2 linked regions of the Homo sapiens genome follow. The protein of the gene in region 1 purifies or fractionates together with the protein of each later gene. This does not show direct contact. Each region holds a gene or a part of one and is shown on either strand. Other genes may lie near its edges.

Region 1 (3,831 bases):
ACGATTTGCCAGTCCTCTCTCAGAGGAGATAATTGATACCACAGGAGCAGGTATGACTTTGCTGCTGGGTAGAGAATGCAGCCATATAAGAAGGTGGAGTAAAGACAGAGTCAGAGATTACCTTGGAGGAAGTGTAGGAAGAACCCGGAAGAGTCAAAGGACAAAGAAGCATGGAAATGCAGTTCCTGCAAGGCTAACGAGGCCATGAAAAGAAAGAAAGTATGGTCGGCAGTGCTGGAGCAGAAGTCAAGCTCTGGTGATTAGAAGGACACCAGTGACACTTAGAGAGCAGTTTCAGCAGACTGGTGGAAGCCAGTGGATGTTCTATTTGTGCCACATCCTGGGTAAGCAGGAGCACGCTTAGAACCAAATCAGCATAAAGCCTTGTCCAGGGCAAGCCAACAATTAAGTCACTACAGAACAATGGAGCTTCCAACAGCTCAGCCATGTCACTCTGCCCTTTTTATGCAAATGACCCCAGCAAAAAGAACAGCAAAGGTAAGTACCTAAGTGAGTGGGCAGATTGGGACAATCCTATTGTGTCCAACTAACGACCATGAAAAGGAGAGGACGTTTCACCCACATGGTTGGTTCACTCACTGTGCATTCGCTCATTAACACTGTGTTAGGCCTAACGTGCTGAGAGACTGAGAAGAGGCACATGGTCATAAAAAGAGACCTGGTTCCTGCCTTCAAGCCGCTTGCAGTATAGTTGGCATGGATTTCCATGCAGTCAGAATACTCCCCAGTCAAAACACTCCATCTATAATGCCTGATACAATCATTGTTCAAACTTTCACAAAATTACCCGGGTTATCAAAACCTTTTTTATGCTTCCCTGTAGTAGGTAAAGGTAAAACTTAAACCGCATGATAAGTGGGGACATTTGTTCATGTAAAAATCATCTGGTAGACTGAATTATAGACTCACTAAGGGCCATCCTTTCAACATCCACCATCACTTTGTTGCTCATGCTTCTCCAGCATCTATCTACAAATCTAACCAAGTTCTATTTCATTATTTCCAATTTCCAGTGACACTTCACTTGAACTACCCTTCACTGCTCTCAGACTCAGTTCTGAAGTCAAGCTTAGCACATGGCATGTCTCAAATCATCACCCTCTGCAAACATCCCTAGCCCTGTGTATGGTACTCTTATTTCATCATCCCTCATAAGCATCTTCTACACCCAATCAATTGCCAAGCTCTGTATTAAGCAGAGTCATGGGCACATAACAGATGTTCAATATTTACTTGTTGATTGAATGGACACGTTTTATATCCTGGGTAACCTTTGTGGTCTAATACCAACTATGGATCTAACACTTCTAATGACAGTGGTTAAGAGGATGGCTTTTGGTGAGAGATGGATCTGATCTGGGTTTAGTCCAATCTTGGCTACTTAGTAGCTCAGTGACTTTGGACGCATTTCCTTGTTTACAAATGTGAATTATTAGGGTTGTGAGAATCAAATATAAAATGCATGTAAAGGTTAGAGCACAGAGATGTTATTTCTCTTAGTCTCTTAGTCCACTGTCAATGTTTATCCATCTTAATAATCTAACGTGAAATCCAAAGGAGTCCAAACCCCAAGATGATACCCATGGTATTCAACTTGAGAACCTTATTTGGACTGTTCAGTAATTGCAAGAAGGGATGATCACTCACGTGAGACACTTTCTTGTGAGCATAAAATATTTTCACTGAAAACAGATCTTACTTCTCCTCCTGGATCCGTTCTCCAATATATCCAGTTTTGAAATTTTCAATTAAAAATTATCTAATGCAGCAAGCCTTATTGAGTGCTAGCTGTATTTGTTGTAGCTACTTAACCAATTAGGCTGGAATACCTTCTCACTTTCCCCCTAGAAAACTAATTTTAGATTCTTAACGAGGTCCCTCTTTTTTTGTCAAGCTTTCCCCAGCTCCACACACAAGACCTGTGTCTGCCTGGGATCCGCTTTGGGAATGAACCTGGAGGTTTCTTATGTGCCCCATCACACAGCCACAGTTGGGTGTGGCCGTGTCTTCCCCAGTGGTCCATGAAGCCCTGAGGTGTCTGCTCTGTACACAGTAGATGCTGAGTCGGTTCTCAATATTTGAGATGACTGGAGGGGGCAGGATGAAAGGCCAGAGGATAGAAACTTAAAGTTACCTGTGCATCTCCTGCCAAGCTTAGAGGGTAGGCTGAGAAGGACAACGTGTAACCTCAGAAGAGGGGGAAGGAACTCCAGTGAATGTGTGTCCAAGATGAAGGAAAAGTAGGAATTTTGATCCCATCGCTTGACAGTAATTTCCTGGTCTTAAAATTTTCTTCCCCCTTTGCTTCTGGAAAATGCATGGCACATACTGGGCCCTCAATGAATATTTATTGAGTGAATACATGAATGCTTCTTCTCTCTGTTTGTCAACGTTTTCTTTTGTTCTTTTTGTTCCTTCATGTTCTTCCTAACTACTCAAGCTTTCCCCTCACCACCCCAATACAGTCATTCTCTCTCTCTCTCTCTCTCCCTCTCTCTCTCTCTCTCTCTCATCTGCTAACTCCATCTATAGTAGTATAACATATGCAGGGGTGTGTGTGTGTTTGTGCGTGTGTGTGTGTGTGTGTGTGTGTATTATTTTCCATTTACAGAGGAGAAAACAGAGTCCCAAAATCCAAAACCGAGCACCAAAGTTTACACAGCTGTCCACACAGCTAGTAATAAAGATGCAGCAAATAAGATGCTATTCCCCCAGAACCCTCCCACTGTTGTGTGCATCAATCCATGGTGCACTTTGACTCCCAGCAGCCAGCACCTGCGATTCTTTCCCCAAAGGACCAGAACCCACTTTGCCAGCCAGTGTCCACATGGTGCCAGAAGTGCATGGAATTAAGTCTCCCCTCCTGCCCACAACCAAGGGGGAACAGGGGTGACTGCCCTTAACTAATGATTGACTGGTGTGAAGGCATAAAGACTACAGCTCTCTAGTCTCCAATTGGCACAGCTCTGATGAGTGATCCACACCACCCCACGTCCGCCCAGGGTGATCAAGCCCAAGTGATCTTCAGAGGACTTCTCAATGTCTCACCCTTACCTGGCTTCTTCCTTTTCCCTGCCCATCTTCTCTGGAAACCCTCCTAATAAATCTTTCCCACAAATCCTCACAGAAAGCACTGCCTCTGGGGACCTAGCCTAAGGCAAGGTAGATGCAGGATTCAAACCCAAGCCTGTGTGTCTTCAAAGTTTTTTCCCACTATGTTGTGGTTGAGATGTTATTACAATCGTGTTGGTCTGCTCTTTGTTCATTTTACAGTTATACATTTAAAATGCATCATACAACCCTGTCTCTACTAAAAATACAAAAATTAGCCCAACGTGGTAGCACGTGCCTGTAATCCCAGCTACTTGAGAGGCTGAGGCAGGAGAATCACTTGAACCCGGGAGGCAGAGGTTGCAGTGAGCTGAGATCATGCCACTGCACTCCAGCCTGGGCAACAGATTGAGACCCCATCTCAAAAAATAAAATGAAATAAAATAAAATAAAATGCATCACACATACATTTTAAATATTTGAATGGCCTCTGTGGTTTCAGGTATCTTGAAGACAAATATGTATTCAAACACTCTATGCTTGCTTACTTTTTCTTACTGTAATTATATTGTCTCTGAGGCAACAGACTTTTGAACATCTTAGCAAAATGAAATAAAGGGCTCAAAGGGGAGAAAAAAGTCATTTTTTTAAATTTGTCTTTGTAATTGCCTCTCACCTGGGTCCAAAATTAAATACAAACTAAAAGGAGCTTTAGCTGTTTTGTGTTCTCTTTTAAGTATTTTTATTGTATGAGTAATG
Region 2 (3,831 bases), on another chromosome or scaffold:
AAAAAAAAAAGAAAGAAAGAAAGAAAGAAAGAAACTGCAATTTTTTTTCCAGAGTTATTTTAGAAACTTTTTTTTTAAAAGTAAAAGAAAAAGAAAAATCAGACATGATTTGATGGACTAGGGTGCGTTCTTATTTGGAAAACTTACAGATAGGCTTGAAACTAAGGGATGAAATCAAAACATTTCTATTTAATATCTAAATCTAGAAAATTTGAATATTACCTATTGGCAATGATAATATTCAAAGATAATAGTATTCAAATACTAGATGCTGTGTTTACATATAAAATAATATCTTATTAATTTTATTCATGTCTGTTAGTACACAAGACAAGGAATGCTATTTTTCCCAGTTAATTTTACATTCCTAGGAATATTTAAGAATCAAAGAATGACCTTATCTGAAGTTTTAAGTTTCCATTTACTATAAATATTTAATGTAAATTAGTTCTTTCTCTATTTTTATGAATTCTCTACACATCTGTCTGTTTCAATAAAATAAAGAATACTCATGTTTATTTCATGGGAGGAACATATACTAAAATTGTTGCATATAAAGTACAGGAGCACTCACTTAAAGGGAAAAAATATCCACGTGGAGAAATTATACATAACAGGATAATACAGTATGCTTAGGAAAATAAGGCTTTTGTTGGGAATTGAATCCTAGTGTGCAGAAGTATTAGCTGACTCTCATTATAAACAAATTTTACCAGTTATTTCCTAACAGACTCTTGTTTAATGAATAAACGCTTTGCTTATTAATTACACAAAATTTGGTCAAAGCATTAGAAAAGATTAAATAGTTTTGTTACGGTGTGTTAAAAACTTGGCTTTTAACCTTGACATTTAATGGATTGGACCACACGGGCCAAGTTCCTTCTCCTTTGCAAAGGTATGGAGCTGGAAATGAACTTAGAGATCAGACTCAAGGGACCACAGCTTGCACTTAATAGTTTACCTTTATCTGTGCTTTAGCTGTGCTTTTGGATGTATTAAGAACTTTTTAACTGCCTTAATAGACTGTTATCCCTTTTACTCTTTGATATGTGACATTTAAATATACCTTGAATTTGAACTGGTTGTCGTTATGTGTTGGGAACAAAATTACTTTTGATGGGAATACATTTTTGAATTAAAAATGCAAGTTAATAGATAAATAATATCTGATTATTATAGATTTTGAAATATTTATATTTAAGCCTTACAAATGACTTTTCAGTACAAACAAATTCTCTGATTAGACTTTCTGATCACCGTAGCAAATATGAATTGGACAATAATGTGAATGTATAATAAAGAGCTATAAAGCAAAAATTTTAAAAAGAAATTGTGGTCTAAACATGCATGCCTCTCTATATGCTGCCACAGTTTTCCAGAAAGTACTGTGCATTTGAATCATCTTTCTTTATAGTGGCCACATAGCAGAAGTGGTTAAGTGTAAAGTTTTTCAGCATGAAGGGCGGGTATTGTGCAAATTTATAATTGCATCAAAATAATGAGAGATTGAAGAAAACTCTGATTTTCAAATGTCTATTTTTGAAGAGTAAAACTTAAACTCATTATTTTTCCTCCCAGAAGGATACCTAAATCATGCTTGTCTTTCTCTTTAACAGATAATTCTGAAATAATCAGCAGAAACGGAATGGAATGCCAAGAATCTGCATTGAGAATAACTAAACATTGTTACTGTACATACTATCCTGTTTCCTCCTCAATAGAATTGCCACAAACTGCATGCTAAATAAAGATGTAGTTCTTCTGGACAGACCACAACTCTAAGAAGCTAGTGCTGCTATCTCATATATGAGTATTAAATATGGTATGCTTAGTATATTCCAACCTAAGATAGTTAACTACCTGAGACCAGCTGTGATGTTTAAAGACATAAAGGATAAAGTTTACTTTTAAAGGGTTTCTAAACATAGTTTCTGTCCTAGGAATATTGTCTTATCTCCATAACTATAGCTGATGCAGAAAGTCCAGCCAGTTTACTCATTTCGATTCAGAATATTTCAAATTTAGCAATAAACAATTAGCATTAGTTAAAAAAGAAACATATTCCAAGGGCAGGTTCGATTCTAGCTCTAATTACTGTCATGTCATTTACCCACTGGATCAAAGGGTATGTTTCACTTCTTGACAATATAAATGCTGCAGCAAAGATGAGAGGTGAAGTAAAACCGATACCTGTCCTGCAGGTCTAAAATTTGAATGGAAATTCAAGCACAAGTACTGGGGACACATCAAAGTGTGGTGTTTGGTTTGCCTGGAGATGCCACGTTGAATCATGTGATTCTAGATTAACATTAAATAGATTGAAAAAGAAACTTTGCACGGTATGAGCTTCATACCCCACCAAACAAAGTCTTGAAGGTATTATTTTACAAGTATATTTTTAAAGTTGTTTTATAAGAGAGACTTTGTAGAAGTGCCTAGATTTTGCCAGACTTCATCCAGCTTGACAAGATTGAGAGGCCCATGCCAACAGTCTAATCTAAGAGATTAGTCTTTCAAACTCACCATCCAGTTGCCTGTTACAGAATAACTCTTCTTAACTAAAAACCTAGTCAAACAAGGAAGCTGTAGGTGAGGAGATCTGTATAATATTCTAATTTAAGTAAGTTTGAGTTTAGTCACTGCAAATTTGACTGTGACTTTAATCTAAATTACTATGTAAACAAAAAGTAGATAGTTTCACTTTTTAAAAAATCCATTACTGTTTTGCATTTCAAAAGTTGGATTAAAGGGTTGTAACTGACTACAGCATGGAAAAAAATAGTTCTTTTAATTCTTTCACCTTAAAGCATATTTTATGTCTCAAAAGTATAAAAAACTTTAATACAAGTACATACATATTATATATACACATACATATATATACTATATATGGATGAAACATATTTTAATGTTGTTTACTTTTTTAAATACTTGGTTGATCTTCAAGGTAATAGCGATACAATTAAATTTTGTTCAGAAAGTTTGTTTTAAAGTTTATTTTAAGCACTATCGTACCAAATATTTCATATTTCACATTTTATATGTTGCACATAGCCTATACAGTACCTACATAGTTTTTAAATTATTGTTTAAAAAACAAAACAGCTGTTATAAATGAATATTATGTGTAATTGTTTCAAACATCCATTTTCTTTGTGAACATATTAGTGATTGAAGTATTTTGACTTTTGAGATTGAATGTAAAATATTTTAAATTTGGGATCATCGCCTGTTCTGAAAACTAGATGCACCAACCGTATCATTATTTGTTTGAGGAAAAAAAGAAATCTGCATTTTAATTCATGTTGGTCAAAGTCGAATTACTATCTATTTATCTTATATCGTAGATCTGATAACCCTATCTAAAAGAAAGTCACACGCTAAATGTATTCTTACATAGTGCTTGTATCGTTGCATTTGTTTTAATTTGTGGAAAAGTATTGTATCTAACTTGTATTACTTTGGTAGTTTCATCTTTATGTATTATTGATATTTGTAATTTTCTCAACTATAACAATGTAGTTACGCTACAACTTGCCTAAAACATTCAAACTTGTTTTCTTTTTTCTGTTTTTTTCTTTGTTAATTCATTTAAACTCATTGAAAACATAGTATACATTACTAAAAGGTAAATTATGGGAATCACTGAAATATTTTTGTAGATTAATTGTTGTAACATTGTCTTTCTTTTTTTTCTTTTGTTTCATGATTTTGATTTTTAAAATTATTAGCACACAACTATTTTCAGCCCTTTAATAATGGAGCATCAAAAACATCACCTGTAACCCCAAGCAAATATAGAAGACTGTATTTTTTACTATGATATCCATT

The links.
Region 2: the proteins of HSD17B2 (region 1) and MBNL2 purify together in Homo sapiens (affinity purification with mass spectrometry, with the first as the bait; one large-scale study listed by BioGRID). This does not show direct contact.

The regions. Positions count from the first base shown.
Region 1 is NC_000016.10:82,038,032-82,041,862, reverse strand, and holds part of HSD17B2 (17-beta-hydroxysteroid dehydrogenase type 2), read right to left. Parts: intron 1-3,831. UniProt on the Homo sapiens protein: Catalyzes the NAD-dependent oxidation of the highly active 17beta-hydroxysteroids, such as estradiol (E2), testosterone (T), and dihydrotestosterone (DHT), to their less active forms and thus regulates the biological potency of these steroids.
Region 2 is NC_000013.11:97,389,706-97,393,536, forward strand, and holds part of MBNL2 (muscleblind-like protein 2), read left to right. Parts: intron 1-1,616; coding exon 1,617-1,744; 3' UTR 1,745-3,831. UniProt on the Homo sapiens protein: Mediates pre-mRNA alternative splicing regulation. Acts either as activator or repressor of splicing on specific pre-mRNA targets. Inhibits cardiac troponin-T (TNNT2) pre-mRNA exon inclusion but induces insulin receptor (IR) pre-mRNA exon inclusion in muscle.